2 separate regions of the Homo sapiens genome follow, and region 1 is linked to region 2. Evidence: fine-mapped expression QTL. A gene starts in region 2. The other region holds a variant in brackets. All regions are shown on one strand. Distances are between the middles of the regions. Region 1 holds the start of PRPF31-AS1 (PRPF31 antisense RNA 1). Region 2 holds the start of OSCAR (osteoclast associated Ig-like receptor).

The links. PIP is the estimated chance that this variant, and not a neighbour inherited with it, causes the effect.
Region 1: its variant is fine-mapped to the expression of OSCAR in whole blood (INTERVAL, PIP above 0.99).

The regions. Positions count from the first base shown.
Region 1 is chr19:54,122,250-54,130,249 of GRCh38, forward strand. PRPF31 (pre-mRNA processing factor 31) reads left to right here. Exons shown (of 14, transcript NM_015629.4): 5 at 248-345; 6 at 1,205-1,311; 7 at 1,500-1,669; 8 at 2,250-2,407; 9 at 4,279-4,368; 10 at 5,824-5,951; 11 at 6,056-6,128; 12 at 6,808-6,936; 13 at 7,023-7,121. It overlaps PRPF31-AS1 (PRPF31 antisense RNA 1), which reads right to left and starts at 393. Exons shown (of 4, transcript NR_186329.1): 1 at 243-393; 2 at 1-157. The variant T/C (reference allele first, on the strand shown) is at 4,073.
Region 2 is chr19:54,095,568-54,105,434 of GRCh38, forward strand. It overlaps OSCAR (osteoclast associated Ig-like receptor), which reads right to left and starts at 5,236. Exons shown (of 5, transcript NM_133169.6): 1 at 5,189-5,236; 2 at 4,181-4,213; 3 at 1,295-1,597; 4 at 305-586. The coding sequence starts at 5,225. NDUFA3 (NADH:ubiquinone oxidoreductase subunit A3) reads left to right here and starts at 7,288. Exons shown (of 4, transcript NM_004542.4): 1 at 7,288-7,321; 2 at 7,547-7,621. The coding sequence starts at 7,312. RefSeq lists an enhancer at 7,077-8,053.

The DNA.
Region 1 (8,000 bases), 26 kb after region 2:
CACCAGCAAGGCGCTTCTTTTCTTTAAGAACATGTCACTGCAGCTCACGTTTTACAGACCAGAACTAATTCCCCTGGTCACACCTAGCGGTAAGGACGGCTGAGAAAGGCTGTATGCTGGTGCCCGTGTGCCAGGCCACAAGCCAGGGCTTCAGTTACTAAAGGAAGAAGGGGACATGGGTGTTAGGGCCAACCAGCAGAGTCTACCTTCCATCTCACCCGACAACCTCCTGTCCCGTTTACCCTAGACATCATCCATAAGTTCATCCGGGATAAGTACTCAAAGAGATTCCCTGAACTGGAGTCCTTGGTCCCCAATGCACTGGATTACATCCGCACGGTCAAGGTGAGCGCAGAGAAGGTGGGGTGCTTCTGCTGGCGTGAAGGGGCAGGCGGGGCTCACTCTCGGACCCCCTCCCAGAGGCCTGAGGGTCTGGAGACGATGGAGAGGAGTGGACGAGGGCTCAGTGGTCTGCTCTGCCCAGCGTGGGAGGGACGGAGCCTGGACAGGACTTTCTCAGGGCTCCCCTCCAACCCCAGTCTCCCGAGAGGGCTTCCCCGCTGGCCTGACCCACGCTGCTCCCGCTGTGGTTGGAGCCGGTGGCATTGGAGTTGACATCCGAAGGTTGACACAGGGCAGGCACACGGAGATTTGGGGGAGAGAGACGTCTAAGTGCAGAGAGCTGGAGAGGGAACAAGTGGGGAGGAAGTGAGGCGGGGAAGGAGGGGACGGGGAAGAGGTCGGATCACGTCCAGCCTTTGGGTCTTAGGAGAAAGCCAAGGAAGGGTTTCGGAAAAGAGGGGCAGGTGTGCGTGAGGGCGGGGAGAGGAGGAGGTCCCCACGCATGTCCAGGAAAGGATTAGGATGGCGGTGGGGAAGCCCCTGCAGGGAAGCGAGGCCGCGGATTTGCACTCCGACTTGACGCAGGCCAGAGGCTTGTGAGGCCACAGTCTTTCCAGACGCCACTCTGCCCGGGCTCCGTTTCCAGGTCAGCGAAAGCAGGGCAGATGGTGTGGATGCTTGACGTGGTGGAGGCAGGAATGGTGTGGATGCTTCAGGCGGTGGAGGCAGGAGAGGCCCCCAGTGCAGAGACCCTGACTGTCCCAGTGTCCCTAAGAAGAGACCTGAGGAGGTGCTGAGCAAGAGAGGTTCTCGAGCCTTCCTGAGTTCCCGAGCCTCCCCTATCTTCTCTGCTCGCCCCCAGGAGCTGGGCAACAGCCTGGACAAGTGCAAGAACAATGAGAACCTGCAGCAGATCCTCACCAATGCCACCATCATGGTCGTCAGCGTCACCGCCTCCACCACCCAGGGGTATGTCCGCTTCGAGGGAGGCGCCGGGCCCTAATGGGATTGGGGATTAGGCTGGAGCTACACACGCAGGTGTACACACGCACACACACATACACACATGCACACACACACACAGAACCGAGAGGGCTGGGGCTGGGCACACCAGGCAGGCGGGAGACCCAGGAGGCTGGGCCCACCCGCCCCTGCAGGCAGCAGCTGTCGGAGGAGGAGCTGGAGCGGCTGGAGGAGGCCTGCGACATGGCGCTGGAGCTGAACGCCTCCAAGCACCGCATCTACGAGTATGTGGAGTCCCGGATGTCCTTCATCGCACCCAACCTGTCCATCATTATCGGGGCATCCACGGCCGCCAAGATCATGGGTGAGTCCCCGGGCTGGGTCCCATGGAGCGGGGGTCTGCTGACACTGTGACCTTGGGAAAGCTACATCCTTTTCTGTAGAATGGGGGCTTTGGCACCTGGACCTCAGCACCCCGTCTCCCTGGACATCACAGAGGTCAGCCAGCCTGGCACACAGCAAAGCCTCATCTGTGGGAAAAACACTCACCCACAGCTCCTTCTCCCTCCCCTGTGCCGGAAACCCAGAGATGACCACACCCAGGCCCTGTTGTCAGGGAGCTCCTGGTTTGGTGAAAATGGTTCCAAAACACAGCCATCCCTGGAACGGCGTTAGTGTGGCTTAGCACAAACGTGGTGGTCAGCTTCCTGTTGGGGGCCTCCTCCCTGCACCCCCAGGCCAGCTGCCCTCCCTCTCTGAGCCTCCTTTGCATCTGCCCCTTGCGGAATGGGCCAGGTCGCCCGCCTGGCAGGGCCATCGAGGAATCCAACCAGAACTTCATGTAAAGGTGCCCAGCACACGTCGAGCCCCCAGGCAGATTTACTCACCCCCACCTCTCTGCTTTCTTCTGACCGCCCCCCCTTCCTCCCTCCCTCCCACCGCAGGTGTGGCCGGCGGCCTGACCAACCTCTCCAAGATGCCCGCCTGCAACATCATGCTGCTCGGGGCCCAGCGCAAGACGCTGTCGGGCTTCTCGTCTACCTCAGTGCTGCCCCACACCGGCTACATCTACCACAGTGACATCGTGCAGTCCCTGCCACCGGTGAGCCCACTGCGTCATGGCCCCTCCCCCGGCCCCCCTGGAGCCTTCCGCTGTGCCCAGACAGCCTGAGCAGCCACCCACCATCTGGCCCAGCTGACGGTAGCACTCAGGAGCTGGGAACAGGGTGGCATGGGACGTGAGAGCCAGGGCTCTGCAGCAGACCAGCTCCAGCACCCACCAGTCAGGTGACTGTGGGCAAGAGGCATGAGCGCCCTGTGCCTCAGTCTCCTCCCCTATCAAATGGGAGCACAGCGCCTGCTTCATGAGTTGGGACGAGGGCTCAGTGCACATGAAGCACTTACAGTTCAGGCCTAGCTCACGACAAGCAGCGTCGGGTTAGCGTGCAACTGCTCCGAAGACCACCCTCAGGTTTGACCATTCACTAGAAAGACTCACAGAATCCACTGAGGGCTGCACATCAGCCATGGGGAGAGACACACAGGAGGGGCAGGAGAGGTCACCAACCTCGGAGCTTCCCGGGTCCTCTCCCTGCAGTCGGGACACATCACCATCCCAGCATCGACGCCTGACAGCACACACACAGGCCCGCTAGCCTGGCGGGGCGCAGTGGCTCGTGCCTGTCATCCCAGCACTTTGGGAGGCCGAGGCGGGCAGATCACCTGAGGTCAGGTGTTCGAGACCAGCCTGGCCAACATGGTGAAACCCCATCTCTACCAAAAATACAAAAAACTAGCTGGGTATAGTGGCACACACTTATAATCCCAGCTACTTGGGAGGCTGAGGCAGGAGAATCGCTTGAACCCAGGAGGTGGAGGTTGCAGTGAGCTAAGATCATACCACTGCCCTCCAGCCTGGGTGACAGAGTGAGACTCTGTCTCAAAAAAAAAAAAAAACAAGCAAGACAGGTTCTGGGACAGACAGGCCTGGGTCCAGACCCTGCTCTGTCCAACTGTGGCGAGTTACCTCAGGCTCACGGCCCTGTGCCCTGCCTGGCCTCCCCCAGGGATGGGGAGAACAATAGCACTGATGGCCAAGGCTGGGCAGGCACTTCCTGGCCCCACCCCCCAGCCCTGTGTGGGGTTTTTTTTGTGGTCTTTTCTGCGACCCTTTAGGTCAGGCACTGCTACTGGAACACACCCAGGGAGGCTGGCAGGTCACCCCATCCTGGGAGGAGAGAGAGTGGGCGATAGAACCCAGGACGGGTGGGCCTGGGGCTCGGGGCTCCAGCTGCCTCACTGCACCCCTGCCATCGCCACCGCCTCACAGCCCTGGGCATATGGGTTAAACCTGCCCCAGGGAGCCTGATGTCTTGTCACCCAGGCCTCTGCCTCTTCATTTGGCCATCTCACATCGGTCCAGGCACAGGCCGTAGACACCACAGGCCTGTAAGGGAGGCCAGGGCTGGCCATCGCTTCACTGTGGCTGACAGCTGGGCTCTGTTTGCAGTTTGGATTGGAACCCTGGCTCCATCACCTGCTGGCTGTCTCCCTGGCCACATGACTTGAAGCCTTGGTTTCCACATCTGAAAAGGGGGTGCAATGATCACACCAGCCCGATATTTGAATATTTGATGAGATGATCCGAGGGGCGTGCTTAGCATGGGGCTGGCATCCAGGCCGAGTGCACTCCCCCCGGCGTCTCCACAGTCACCACCGTCCTCGTTGTCAGCGTGCCTTACTGTCATCCTTACCTGATGGCCACTTA[T/C]CAGCTGGGACATGGCTCTGTGCCCTGCCCTCATCCCCTCTTCCTGTGAAGTAGGAGCTGAGAGCACACACCTCTAGAGCCCAAGGGTGGAAAGCCCCCTTCCAGGACCCCAGGTAGAGCCAGAGGAGGAGCGCGCGCGGTTGCTTTGCTGTTACCTCTGTCTGTCTGTCTCACACAGATTCCACCCCCGTTTTCCGTTGCTCCAGGATCTGCGGCGGAAAGCGGCCCGGCTGGTGGCCGCCAAGTGCACACTGGCAGCCCGTGTGGACAGTTTCCACGAGAGCACAGAAGGGAAGGTGAGGAGGGAAAGGTGAGGGGCGGCCGGGCGTCTTTTCCTCTGGGCCTGGGGTGTCTCTGCAGGGAGACCCTCAGCAGGGAGCCCACCCCAGCGAGCACTGTCCTACCAAGGCGGAGGCAGTGCTTCTGCCCACCCTCCCTGGGGTCAGGCACCCCCTTCCCCAGTGGGGTTTCCTAGGTCTGCTGTTGGAAGGTAGCATGAACCTACTGGCTTAAAACAGTGCAGGTGTGGCCGGGTGCAGTAGCTCACGCCTGTAATCCCAGCACTTTGGGAGGCCAGGGTGGGCGGGTCACAAGGTCAGGAGTTTGAGACCAGCCTGGCCAACATGGTGAAACCCCATCTCTACCAAAATTAGCCGGGTGTGGTGGCACGCACCTGTAATCCCAGTTACTCAGGAGGCTGAGGCAGGAGAATTGCTTGAACCTGGGAGACGGAGGTTGCAGTGAACTGAGATTGCATCATTGCACTCCAGCTTGGGTGACATAGCGAGACTCCATCTAAAAACAAAAACAAAAAACAGTACAGGTTTATTATCTGTGGTCCTGTAGGTCAGAAGTCCAAAATGAGTTTCACTGGGCTGAAGTCAGGGTGTCATCCTGGAGCGTTCCTTCTGGGGGATTCAAGGGATAATCCATTCCCTGGTCTTTTCCAGCTTCTAGGGGTCACTGGCACCCCTTAGCTCGTGGCCCTCCCTCTGTCTGCGGAGCCAGCCACATAGCACCCTCAGACCTCTCTCTGACTCTGCTTCTGTCTTCATATCTCCGCCTCTGTTTTTGTTCCCCTCTTCTATTTTAAGGGCCCCTGTGGCTATACTGAGCCTACTCAGATGGTCCAGGATAGTCTTCCCAGCTCACAATCCTTAAAATCCTTCTTAACCTCTTCACGTCCCTTTTGCCCTGTGATTCTGGGAATTAGAACATGGGCCTCTTTGGGCATGTGTGTGTTGGTGGGGGCGTAATTTGCCTTCCACACCAGGATCTGTCCCCGCTGCAACAGGGGATGTTATTCAAGTAATTATTCAGTTACCTTCTGTCTTCCTTGGTAGATGTACTCGGGAGAGGAGACGTTTTCTGTCTTGTGAACTGTCGTTTGCCAAGCACCCGGCCTGGCACAGCGTTCAGGTGTTCCGTGTCCCCTTCTCCTTTCCCTCTCCCCATCTCACCCCTGGTCTGGGTGTGGGGGTGCAGCTGTGAGTAGCACAGACAGGACCCCTGCCCCGTGGCGTGGACATTCTTGTTGGGGCCGGGTCAAAGAGACAGTCAACAGGTGAACTCTGTCCTGCGTCTAGCGGTGCTAAGTCAACACCAAGAAGAAAAAGAAAGGGGGTGGCGGTGAGGCAGCATTAGGTGCTGATTTAACTAAGGCACGTGGATACTCGGGGGGCCCGCTCAGAGGAGGCCTGGGTGGGCAGCCCACGCGAGCAGCTGCAGGACCTCCCCCTCGCCCTCCCCAGGTGGGCTACGAACTGAAGGATGAGATCGAGCGCAAATTCGACAAGTGGCAGGAGCCGCCGCCTGTGAAGCAGGTGAAGCCGCTGCCTGCGCCCCTGGATGGACAGCGGAAGAAGCGAGGCGGCCGCAGGTGAGGGGCCCTGGGGGTCCGGTAGGCATGGGGGTCATGGAGGGGAGAAGCCGGCGTCCTCCTCCCAGCCGACTCCCTGGCGCCGCCCACCCACCCGTCCCCAGGTACCGCAAGATGAAGGAGCGGCTGGGGCTGACGGAGATCCGGAAGCAGGCCAACCGTATGAGCTTCGGAGAGGTCAGACTCCCAGAGCGCCCTCCTCAACCCCACAGCCAGCCAGCCGCCACCGCCCTCTGCCTCCTGCCACCGCCCCTCCTCTCGTCCTGTGGCCCTGGCTCATGTCTAGGGCGCTGCCCCAGCCTCCCCCCCCCCGGCCTCTATTCTCGTTTCCATCCGTTCAGCCCCAAAGCGACCCTCGCGACCCTTGGAGCCTGTGTCTCCGCTGCTTAGAGCCCCCGCGGCTTCCCATCGCCCCGGGCTCCTTGGCCGGTTCCTCCCTGCCCAGAGGCTCCTTAGTGCCCTGCTGCACGGCCGCCCCGTCCCTGGGCCCCGCCAGTCTCCTCTGTTATCCCAGCGTCATCCCCTTGGTCCTGCAGGACCGAACTCAGAGGCCACCTCATCCTATTAAACCTGTTCTGGTTCCTGACATCCCCCGACCCACACGAGTAAGGAAGGAATGGCCTCCCAACTCTGAGCTCACAGAGCAGTGCTGGGACCGGGCCCCTCTCAGGCTCCCCAGCATCCCCCGCGTGTGTGGGCCCCCAGGCCTCAGCCGGGCCGAGTGGGTACCGGAGCAGGTGCCCGTGGGACCGGCCGGCTGGTGACCGCTGGGCTTCGGGCTGGTGGAGGGGGTGCCTCGGTGGCTGGAGGGCAGGGCCTGGTCGCTGAACTGCAGGGCGCCTCCTCTCCCCCCTAGATCGAGGAGGACGCCTACCAGGAGGACCTGGGATTCAGCCTGGGCCACCTGGGCAAGTCGGGCAGTGGGCGTGTGCGGCAGACACAGGTAAACGAGGCCACCAAGGCCAGGATCTCCAAGACGCTGCAGGTATGGGCCAGACCCAGGTGGGGCTGGGGACCGAGGGACACAAGGTGGGGGGAGCCCAGATCGCAGCCTCCCTGTCCTCCCCACAGCGGACCCTGCAGAAGCAGAGCGTCGTATATGGCGGGAAGTCCACCATCCGCGACCGCTCCTCGGGCACGGCCTCCAGCGTGGCCTTCACCCCACTCCAGGTACCTCCCCTGGGCCGGCTCTGTCCCCAGCCCTGAGACCTTGGCAAGGCCCCTTGCCCTCTGCCCCTGTGAAGAAGGCCAGGATGAGTCTCCTCATGGGGCTGTTGTGGAGGGTGTGGTGACGAGGTATGCAGAGGACGTAGACAGCTCCTGGCACACAGGAAGAGGTTAGCAGAGACGAGAGCCCAGCGCTGAGCAGTCCTCGTGAGCACGCACTGCTTTAGAACCAGGCCCACAGCTGTGTTCAGGGCACCCAGTTCCTCTGTCGGGCTGTGAGCGGGTAACACTGCTCAGCCTCCAGGCCCTCCAGTTCAAAACGGCCAGGACGGTTAAGGTAACCTCAGGACCCCACTCGAGAAAGTTCCCGGCTAGGCGGGCTTGGATGTCAAGTGTGGGTCCAGGCCCCAGCCAGTCAGCAGTGAGCAGCGTGGAGCATGGCAGTCACCGCATCGTCGGAGCCTCGGTTTACCATCCACAGAGCAGGGCGAGCCTGCACCACGGAGGCGAGACAGCAGCGAGCTCATCTGCCCAGTCAGCGGGTGTCTACGCAGCACCTGCTGAGTTCTGTCAGTGTTCCCGGCTCTGGGGATGAAGCAACGAATGAGAGACAAGTCTTACCTTCTTGGAGCCAGTGGGTGGCCGGGCGCAGACAGCTCAGTAAGATGTCCAGTGTAGGAGAAGGCAGAAATGCCAGGCCGGGCGCAGACAGCTCAGTAAGATGTCCAGTGTAGGAGAAGGCAGAAATGCCAGGCCGGGCGCAGACAGCTCAGTAAGATGTCCAGTGTAGGAGAAGGCAGAAATGCCAGGCCGGGCGCAGACAGCTCAGTAAGATGTCCAGTGTAGGAGAAGGCAGAAATGCCAGGCTGGGCGCAGACAGCT
Region 2 (9,867 bases):
CTGGAGTCCTGGGTCCAGGAAGGAGGGGCTGGGGGCCTGGAGTCCTGGGTCTGAGGGAGGAGGTACTGGGGCCCGGGAATCCTGGGTCTGAGGGAGGAGGAGCTGGAGGACTAGACTCCTGGATCTGAGGGAGGAGGGGCTGGGTCCCAGGAATCCTGGGTCTGAGGGAGGAGGGGCTGCAGGACTAGACCCCTGGGTCTGAAGGAGGAGAGGCTGGGGGCCTGGGCTCCTGGGTCTGAGGGCGGAGGTCCTGGGGCCTGCATTCCTGGGGCGGAGGAGGCGGGCCGGGCCTCAGGGCCCTCACCTTCCCAGCTGATGACCAGCACCTCGCTGCGCTGCGACAGCACGTAGGGCGCGGAGGGCGTGTGATAGTAGCAGCTGTAGGTGCCGGGGGCGCGGGCGCCCAGCAGCGTGAAGTCGGCCCAGGGCTGCGCGGAGTGGCGGTACTGCAGCGGGGCCGCCACGCCCTCGCGGTACAGCACGAAGCTCATGTTCCGCAGGCGGCCCGCGCAGCGCAGGCTCACGTTGGCGCCAGGACCCACCACCGGCCCGGGCAGCGCCACCAGCGACGGCCGCGGCAGCTCCTCTGCAGAGACGGGGTGAGAGTCCGGGGCCGCGTGAGCGTCTTCCGCTCGCTCGCTCGCTCTGTTTCTCCTTCTCCTCTGTCTCTCGCTTTCTCTGTGCCTCTCTCTCTCTTTCTGCCTCTCTTTCTCTCTGCCTGTCTCTCTCTCTGTCTGCCTCTCTCTCTGCCTCCCTCTCTCTCTGCCTCCCTCTCTCTGCCTCCCTCTCTCTCTGCCTCCCTCTCTCTCTGCCTCCCTCTCTCTCTGCCTCCCTCTCTCTCTGCCTCCCTCTCTCTCTGCCTCCCTCTCTCTCTGCCTGCCTCTCTCTCTGCCTGCCTCTCTCTCTGCCTCCCTCTCTCTGCCTCCCTCTCTCTCTGCCTCCCTCTCTCTCTGCCTCCCTCTCTCTCTGCCTCCCTCTCTCTCTGCCTCCCTCTCTCTCTGCCTGCCTCTCTCTCTGCCTCCCTCTCTCTCTGCCTCCCTCTCTCTCTGCCTCCCTCTCTCTCTGCCTCCCTTTCTCCTTCTGCCTCTTTCTCTCTCTCTCCCCCCGCACTGTACCTCTCTCTCTCTCTGCTCCCCTGTCTCTCTCTCTCCCCCTAGTGTCTCTGTATCTGTCTTTTCTTGTGTCTGTGAATCTGTTTGCCCGCCTCGCTCTGTCTCTCTTTCCCTATATCTCTCTGTCCCTCCCCCAACTCCCTTGTTCCACCCACTTCTCCTCCCCGACCCCAGGACCTCACCTGTCACCAGCAGCTCCAGGACATCGCTGGGCTGGGACCAGACACCCGGCCCCCAGTCTGGCCTTCGGTAGCAGCAGCGGTAACTTCCCCCTTGGGCTGGAGTCACCTCCTCCAGAAAGAATTCTGCCAGCTCGGAGGACACATCCCGGAAGAGAAGGGGAGCGATCTCTCCAGGCTTGAAAAGTCCAAATCTCCAAGCGGGTTGGGGTGCCCGGCATCTCAAGGTCACGTTGACCCCAGGGGTCACAACTGTAGCCGGCTGAGCTCCCAGCCATGGCTTAGGGTGGTATGAAGCTGGGGGGACTGAATAAACGGGGCTGCCTGGGTCCTCGGGCCTCCTGGGAGCCCCAGAAGATGAAAGGGAAGTTGGGGAAGGAGGAAAATCACCTTGGACAATTACTGCCCCTTTCTTAGCCTCAGTTTCCTGTTTGTAAAATCAGGGAGAGACTGGACTACAATCAAGCCTTGTTAAAACCAGGTGCAAATCAGAGGGGCAGGACAGAAACTTCTGAGCTTTACTCCACAGTTTGTAAACACAGTTTCAAAAGGTCAGGTCCCAGAACTCTGTAATTTTATTATTATTATTATTTTTAAGTAATGAGATGGGAGGGGGCGGTCTCCCTATGTTGAGCAGGTTGGTCTTAAACTACTGGCCTCAAGCAATCCTCCCACCTCGGCCTCCCAAAGTGCTAAGTTTACAAGCTTGTGCCACCACACCCAGACTTTTTTTTTTTTTTTTTTTTTTTTTTTTGAGGCAGGGTCTTGCTCTGTTGCTCAGGCAGGAGTGCAGTGGCATGTTCTCAACTCACTGCAGCCTCAATCTCTTGGGCTCAAACAGTCCTCCACCTCAGCCTCCTGAGTACCTGGGACCACAGGCACATGCCACTACACCAGGCTAATTTTTTTTTTTTTAATTTTTAGTAGAGACGAGCATTCGCTATATTGCCCAGGCTACTCTTGAACTCTTGGGCTCAAGCAATCCTCCCACCTCGGCCTCCCAAAGTGCTGGGATTACAGGTGTGAGCCACCACGCCCAGCCAGAACTCTAATTTTAAATAGCTTTCCAGAATATTTGCAATATAGTATTTCAAGAGTTGCCAAAACTTGCTATTTGGAAAAGAAAAATGTTGGATCCCTACCTCATACCATTTCCCAAAACAACTTCCAGATTAATTAAAGACCCTGTGTTTCTTTTTTTTTAAACTATAAAAGTATTCAAAAAACTATAGGAAAATATATTTGTCTTGGGGTAAGGAAGGCTTCTTAAAATATAAAATAAAAAGTTGTATGGAAGATTAATTAATTTGACCACTTCAAATTTCTTAAGTTGTGTATGCTAAAAGACAAAACTAGAGGACAAATGATAGTACTGGCAGATATCACTTATTCACAAATCACACAAATTAAGAGTACAGGAAGGCTGTTGGGTCCGGTGGCTCACAGCTGTAATCCCAGCACTTTGGGAGGCCAAGGTGGGTGCATCACCTGAGGTCAGGAGTTCAAGACCAGCCTGACCAACATGGTAAAATCCCATCTCTACTAAAAACAGAAAAATTAGCCAGGCGTGGTAGTGCTAGCTTGTAGTTCCAGCTGTTTGGGATGCTGAGTAGGAGAATTACTTGAACCCTAGAGTCGGAGGCTGCAGTTAGCTGAGATCATGCCACTGCACTCCAGCCTGGGCAACAGAGTGAGAACTCCATGGTGGCATGCACTTTGGGAGGCTGAGGCTGGAGGATTGTCTGAGCCCAGGAATTCAAAGCTGCAGTGAGCTATGATAGAGCCACCGTACTCCAGCCCGGGTGACACAATGAGACCCCATCTCTAAAAATGAATAAAAATAAGGGTCGGGTGAGGGGGCTCATGTTTGTAATCCCAACACTTTGGGAGGCTGAGGCAGAGGGATCACCTGAGGTCAGGAGTTCCAGACCAGCCTGACCAACATGGGGAAACCCTGTCTCTACTAAAAATACAAAAATTATCCGGGCATTGTGGTGTGTGCCTGTAGTCCCAGCTACTCAGGAGGCTGAGGCAGGAGAATCCCTTGAACCCAGGAGGTGGTTGCAGTGAGCCGAGATTGCACCACTGCACTCCGGCCTGGGCGACAGAGAGAAACTGGTCTCAAAATAAATAAATAAATAAATAAAATAAATAGGTAGAGATAGCTATAGCGACACTGAAATATCTCCAAAAGAGTTTTTTTTGTTTGTTTGTTTGTTTTTGAAGTGGAGTCTTGCACTGTCACCCAGGCTGGAGTGCAGTGGCGCGATCTCAGCTTACTGCAACCTCTGCCTCCTGGGTTCAAGCGATTCTCTTGCCTCAGCCTCCTGAGTAGCTGGGATTACAGGTGCGTCCCACCACACCCGGCTAATTTTTTTTTTTTTTTTTTTTTTTTAGTAGAGACGGGGTTTCACCACATTAGCCAGGATGATCTCGATCTGACCTTGTGATCCGCCCGCCTCTGCCTCCCAAAGTGCTGGGATTACAGACGTTGGCCATTGCGCCCAGCCCAAGATCCTATTTCTTAAGCCCTGTACTGTGCCAGGCTCAGGGTTTTGCACATGTGATTTGATGAGATCTCACAGCGGCCCATTTTACAGAGAAGGAAATGGAGTCTTAGCAAGCTGTGACTTGTTCTAGGTCATATGGTCACATATAAATGAATACGATGGTGAAACTGAGGTCCTAGCTTAGGCCTCTGCCTCAGAAGTTCCTGGTCTTCAGTACTCACCTATAATGGCCACTAAGGGGAATGAGAAAAGAAGGAAGGAATGGAGGGAGGGAGGAAAATAAGGATATCTGGGATGGGATTGGGCACCAAAATAAAATCTGAGTAATTGGAAAAGGGGTGTCAGCAACAAAAGGAGAGTGGATGGGGTGGCTACTCACCAGACGGAGTGATGTCTGTGTGACACAGAGGCCCTGTAGGAGGTTGAGGGACTAGTTTCTTTTTCCTTTTTTTTTTTTTGTCTGAGGCAGAGTCTCACTCTGTCGCCCAGGCTGGAGTGTAGTGGTGTGATCTCAGCTCACTGCAACCTCTGCCTCCCAGGTTCAAGTGATTCTCCTGCCTCAGCCTCCGTAGTAGCTGGGACTACAAGTGCCCGCCACCACACCAGGCTAATCTTTGTATTTTTAGTAGAGAGGGGTTTCGCCATGTTGGTCAGGCTGGTCTTGAACTCCTGTCCTCAGGTGATCCACCCGCCTCGGCCTCCCAAAGTGCTGGGCCTCGGCTCCCACAGGCATGAGCCGCTGCGCCCAACAGCGAGTTCTTTTCAAAACCCTTTGTGGCCAGCCCCATCTCATTGGTAACCCAGGAATCTGAGTTCCCAGCTCCTATCTCCTCTGGGAAATGAGAATCTTATCCCTCCCTCCTCCTGTCTCAGTAGGCAGAAATTTGGACATCCATTGCCCACCTACCGAAGAAGTCTGAACGCAGACCCCTCTGGCCTGGGCAACCAAGAGTTCAGGCCCTTGAACTCCACCTTTCCAGGGAACAATGATCGTAGAGTTTCTCCTCTCACGAGTTCAGGAATCTGGGTCCCCATTTCCCTCTTCTCTCAGGAGCTAAGAGCCCTGTTCCCAGCCCCCTTTTCCCAGGGAATCAGGAGTCCTGGCTTCCATCCCCCTCCCATATAAGAATCTGGGAGTCCTCCCTGTCTCCTGACCTCTTCCTGCCTCAAGAACCAGAGATACCTGTCCCCACCTCCTTCCTCTTTCGGGAATCTGTGTTCTCTTGCTTTAGGACCCAGGGGTCTGGGCCCCAGCCCTGTTCTTTATTTGAACCTAGAATCCCAAACCTGCTGCCTGGTCCCCCTGCAGGGTGTCTGGGTCTCCATTGCCTCTCTCTCTGCCCCCAACCCCAGCCAGGAACCCAGGGAGAAGAAAGGGGTGACTCACAGAGGGTCAGCAGCTGGAGGATCAGCACCAGGGCCATGGTGGGCAGATACCCGCTAGAGCTGGAGCCAGGGCTTGGTCGCACCCTCTCCCCTCCCAGGAAATGAGGCAACATCAGAAAACCAGACCCAGATCCTCATTTACGGAAGAGAGTATCGAGGTGGGGGCCTGTGGGTGACTGTGTCATAGCCCTATGGCACTGTGGAAAAATTAGCAGGGGGTTCAGTCATAACCTGTGGTGTTCATTTATTTAACTCTAGAAACAAATACTAGTCAGGAGGTGGAGGCAGGAGGATCGCTTGAGCCCAAGAGTTCAAGAGCAGCCTGGGCAACAGAGCGAGACCCTGTCTAAAAAATAAATAAATAAATTGTGCCACTGCACTCCAGCCTGGGTGATAGAGTGAGACCATGTCTTTAAATATAGATAGACAGATAGAAAGATATCTGTCTGTTTTAAAAATAAGAACCTATTATGTGCCAGACTCTTGCTGTCATTGATTGACAGATAGATAAAAATTTGCACCTATTATGTGCCAGGCCCTTGCTGTGATTGAAAGATAGATAGATGGATGGATGGATAGATAGATAGATAGATAGATAGATAGATAGATAAAAATTAGCACCTGTTAAGTGCCAGGCCCTTGCTGTGATTGATTGATGGATAGATAAAAATTAACACCAATTATGTGCCAGGCCCTTGCTGTGATTAATTGATCGATTGATAGATTGGTTGACAGAGAAAAATTAGCACCTATTATGTGCCAGGCTCTTGGTGTGATACTGTGTTAGATAGATAGATAGATAAAAATTAGCCCCTCTAGGCCGGGCGCGGTTGTTCACGCCTGTAATCCCAGCACTTTGGGAGGCCAAGGCGGGTGGATCACCTGAGGTCGGGAAGTTCGAGACCAGCCTGACCAACATGGAGAAACCCCCGTCTCTCCTAAAAAAGAAAAATTAGCCGGCTGTGGAGGCGCGCGCCTGTAATCCCAGCTATTCAGGAGGCTGAGGCAGGAGAATCGCTTGAACTCGGGAGTCGGAGGTTGCTGTGAGCCGAGATCGCGCCATTGCACTCCAGCCTGGGCGACAGAGCTAGACTCAATCTCAGAAGAAAAAAAAAAAAATTAGAACCTATTACGTGCCAGACCCTCGCTGTGCCATGTTGGCAGGCACAGAGGGAACTCAGACTCCGTTACTGCTCTCAAGCAGCAGCTACCAGTCCGACTGAAAGACCAAGACCAGGTCAGTTTCTTTTTTTTTGAGACGGAGTCTCGCTCTGTCGCCCAGGCTGGAGTGCAGTGGTGTGATCTCGGCTCACTGCAAGCTCCGCCTCCCGGGTTCACGCCATTCTCCTGCCTTAGCCTCCCCAGTAGCTGGGACTACGGGCGCCCACCACCACGCCCGGCTAATTTGTGTTGTATTTTTAAGTAGAGACAGGGTTTCACCATGTTAGCCAGGATGGTCTAGATCTCCTGACCTCGTGATCCGCCCGCCTCGGCCTCCCAAAGTGCTGGGATTACAGGCGTGAGCCACCGCGCCTGGCCCAGACCAGGTCAGTTTCTTAAGTGATCTGAGCTATAATGGCGGTAACAGAGCACTGTGAGAGCCCGCAGAAAGCTCCTAACCCATCTGGGATGAGACCTAGCGCTTCCAGGACGAGCCGATGTTGAGCTGAGACCTCGAAGGACAGGTTAGTCATTCACCTTCTCCCGGGCTCAGTTTCTTCGTCTGTAAAATGGGCTTTCATACATAAACTATAAAATGGGGACTATTTTGTTCCGCCTTAGGTGGGTCGCAGCAGGAGGACTAGTCACTCCGGAGCGACTTCTAGGCTGAGACTAAGGAGATTCCACGCAGGTCCGCAAAGTCAGGCTTGCGCTTGCTCCTGACACCACTTCCTTTACCTCCACGGCTCCATCTTTGTTCTGCGCGAGTGCGCACGCGCAGGCTCCGAAAGCGGGCCGTCGCACAGAGGGACCACAACTCCCAGAGTGCTCCGCGTCCTTGCTTTCGCCTCTACTTGTGCTCCAGGGCGCACGCGCAGCCCTGGGAGCGGGTTCTCGCGCATAGGGACCACAACTCCCAGGGTGCTCCGCGTCCTCGCCGCTGTCGCCGCCGCGGAGACAAAGATGGCTGCGAGTAAGTGCAGGTGCCGGTGGCGCACGGGGCTCGGGTAGTTCTGGGAACCTCTGGGCGGTCCTGGGACTGAGGTGCGGCAGGGCAGGGGTGGAAGCGATGGGGTCCGTGCTGGAGGGGAACGCAGAAGTCACGAGGGGGCTCCTCCAGGGCAGGGGTGGCACGAGAGGGTTAGAGGTCACCGGGGGCAGCTACTTGCAGGGGTGACGCTTCTTGCCACCCCTTCAGGAGTCGGCGCCTTCCTCAAGAATGCCTGGGACAAGGAGCCAGTGCTGGTCGTGTCCTTCGTCGTCGGGGGCCTCGGTGCGTGAGTGCTCCAGGCGCAAACTTGCATCGTCCACCCCCGTCCCCCTACATCCCTCCATCTTGTACCCCTAAAGCCCTATCGCCGCCCTCGGGTCCCCTCTAGTGTGTCTGCACCCCCACGGCATCCCCTTATCTATCCCCATACCCATTATAACCTCTCCACCATCGCCCCCCGCGTTCCTCTCCACCTACCCAATACGCTCTTAACCCCTCTAAATGAGACGTTCTCAACCCTGCTTATGCCTTAACACCTGAGCACCAAAAAAAAGTCCAGATCCTCCTCCTCCTTTTCATCTTTCCTCTCCCCCATTCTGAATTGAGTTGGCTTGGGTGGAGGTGGGACTGGGGAATCTGTGTCTTGTGAAAATCCCCGTATGATCCCAATGTGCCTTGCTGATTGAAAATCTCTGCCCTCTGCCCTGGAACTGCCCTACTCACACTTTAATTAGCACCGGAGTTCCTGCAGGGATGGGGGCGGGGGATTGTTAAAATGTAGCTTTTTTTTTTGCGATGGAGTCTCACTCTCACCCAGGCTGAAGTGCAGTGGCGCGATCCCGGCTCACTGCAACCTCGGCCTCCTGGGTTCAAGGGATTCTCCTGCCTCAGCCTCCCGAGTAGCTGGGATTACAGGCGCCCAGCTAATTTTTTGTTTTTGTTTTTGAGACTGAGTCTCGCTCTGTCGCCCAGGCTGGAGTGCAGTGGCGCGATCTCGGTTCAGTGCAAGCCCCGCCTTCCGGGTTCACGCCATTCTCCTGCCTCAGCCTCCCGAGTAGCTGGGACTACAGGCGCCCGCCCCCATGCCCGGCTAATTTTTTGTATGTTCAATAGAGACGGGGTTTCACCGTGTTAGCCAGGATGGTCTCGATCTCCTAACCTCGTGATCCTCCCAACTCGGTCTCCCAAAGTGCTGGGATTACAGGCGTGAGCCACCGCGCCCGGCCAGCTTTTTTTTTTTTTTTTTTTTGAGATGGCGTCTCGCTCTGTCTTCCAGGCTACAGTGCAATGGTTTGATCATGGCTCACTGCAACCTCCGCCTCTAGGGTTCAAGTGATTCTCCTGCCTCCGCCTCCCAAGTAGCTGGGATTACAGGCGAGCACCACCACGCCCGGCTAATTTTTGTATTTTTAGTAGAGACAAGGTTTCACCATGTTGGCCAGGCTGGTCTTGAACTCCTGACCGCAAGTGATCTGCCTTCCCAAAGTGCTGGGATTACAGGGGTGAGCCACTGCGCCCGGCCAAACTGTAGGTTCTGATTCTGTAGGTCTGGGGTGGGGCATGGGATTCTGCATTTTTGAAGAGTTCCCAGGTCTTGTCAGTACTGCTGGTCCACCAGCCAGGCACTAGGTTAAGGTTCTGAACACTTATTCAGTATGGCAGCCACCAGCCACAACTGGCCACTGAGCATTTGAAGTGGTGCTGGTATGAATTGAGGTGGTATAAGACACTGGATTTCAAAAACTTAGTATAACAGAGTGTGTAAACTACCAATAATCTTTTGTTGATTACATGGCGAAGTGATGTTTTGGATGTACTATGGTTTTTTTTGTTTGTTTGTTTTTGTTTTTTTGAGACGGAGTTTCGCTTTTGTCCAGGCTAGAGTGCAATGGCCTGATCTCGGCTCACTGCAACCTCCGCCTCCCGGGTTCAAGCGATTCTCCTGTCTCAGCCTCCTTAGTAGCTGGGATTACAGGCGCATGCCACTACACCTGGCTGTTTTTGTATTTTCAGTAGAGACGGGGTTTCATCATATTGGTCAGGCTGGTCTCGAACTCCTGACCTCAGGTGATCCACCCGTCTCAGCCTCCTAAAGTCCTGGGATTATAGGCATGAGCCACCTCGCCCATCCAAGTATGTTTCTTAAAATTTGTTTCATCTGTATCTCTTATTTTTACTGTAGCTACTAGAAGATATAAAATTATATACCTGGCTCTTACCATCTGTCAGACAGCACTGGCCTAGAACATTCCTTTTATGAACTGTACCCCATCCCCCAGGACTCCTGGCTCCCACCCTAAATGGACTGTGGTCAGTGACTGTTGTTTGTGCAACCCTTTCTCCTCCAGTTTGTAAGGCTTTTTTTTTTTTTTTTTTTTTGGTGATGGAGTCTCTCTCTGTTGCCCAGGCTGGAGTGCAATGGCACAATCTGGGCTCACTGCAACCTCTGCCTCCCAGGCTCAAGGGATTCTTCTGCCTCAGCCTCCTGAGTAGCTGGGATTACAGGCTCCTGCCACCACGCCCGGCTA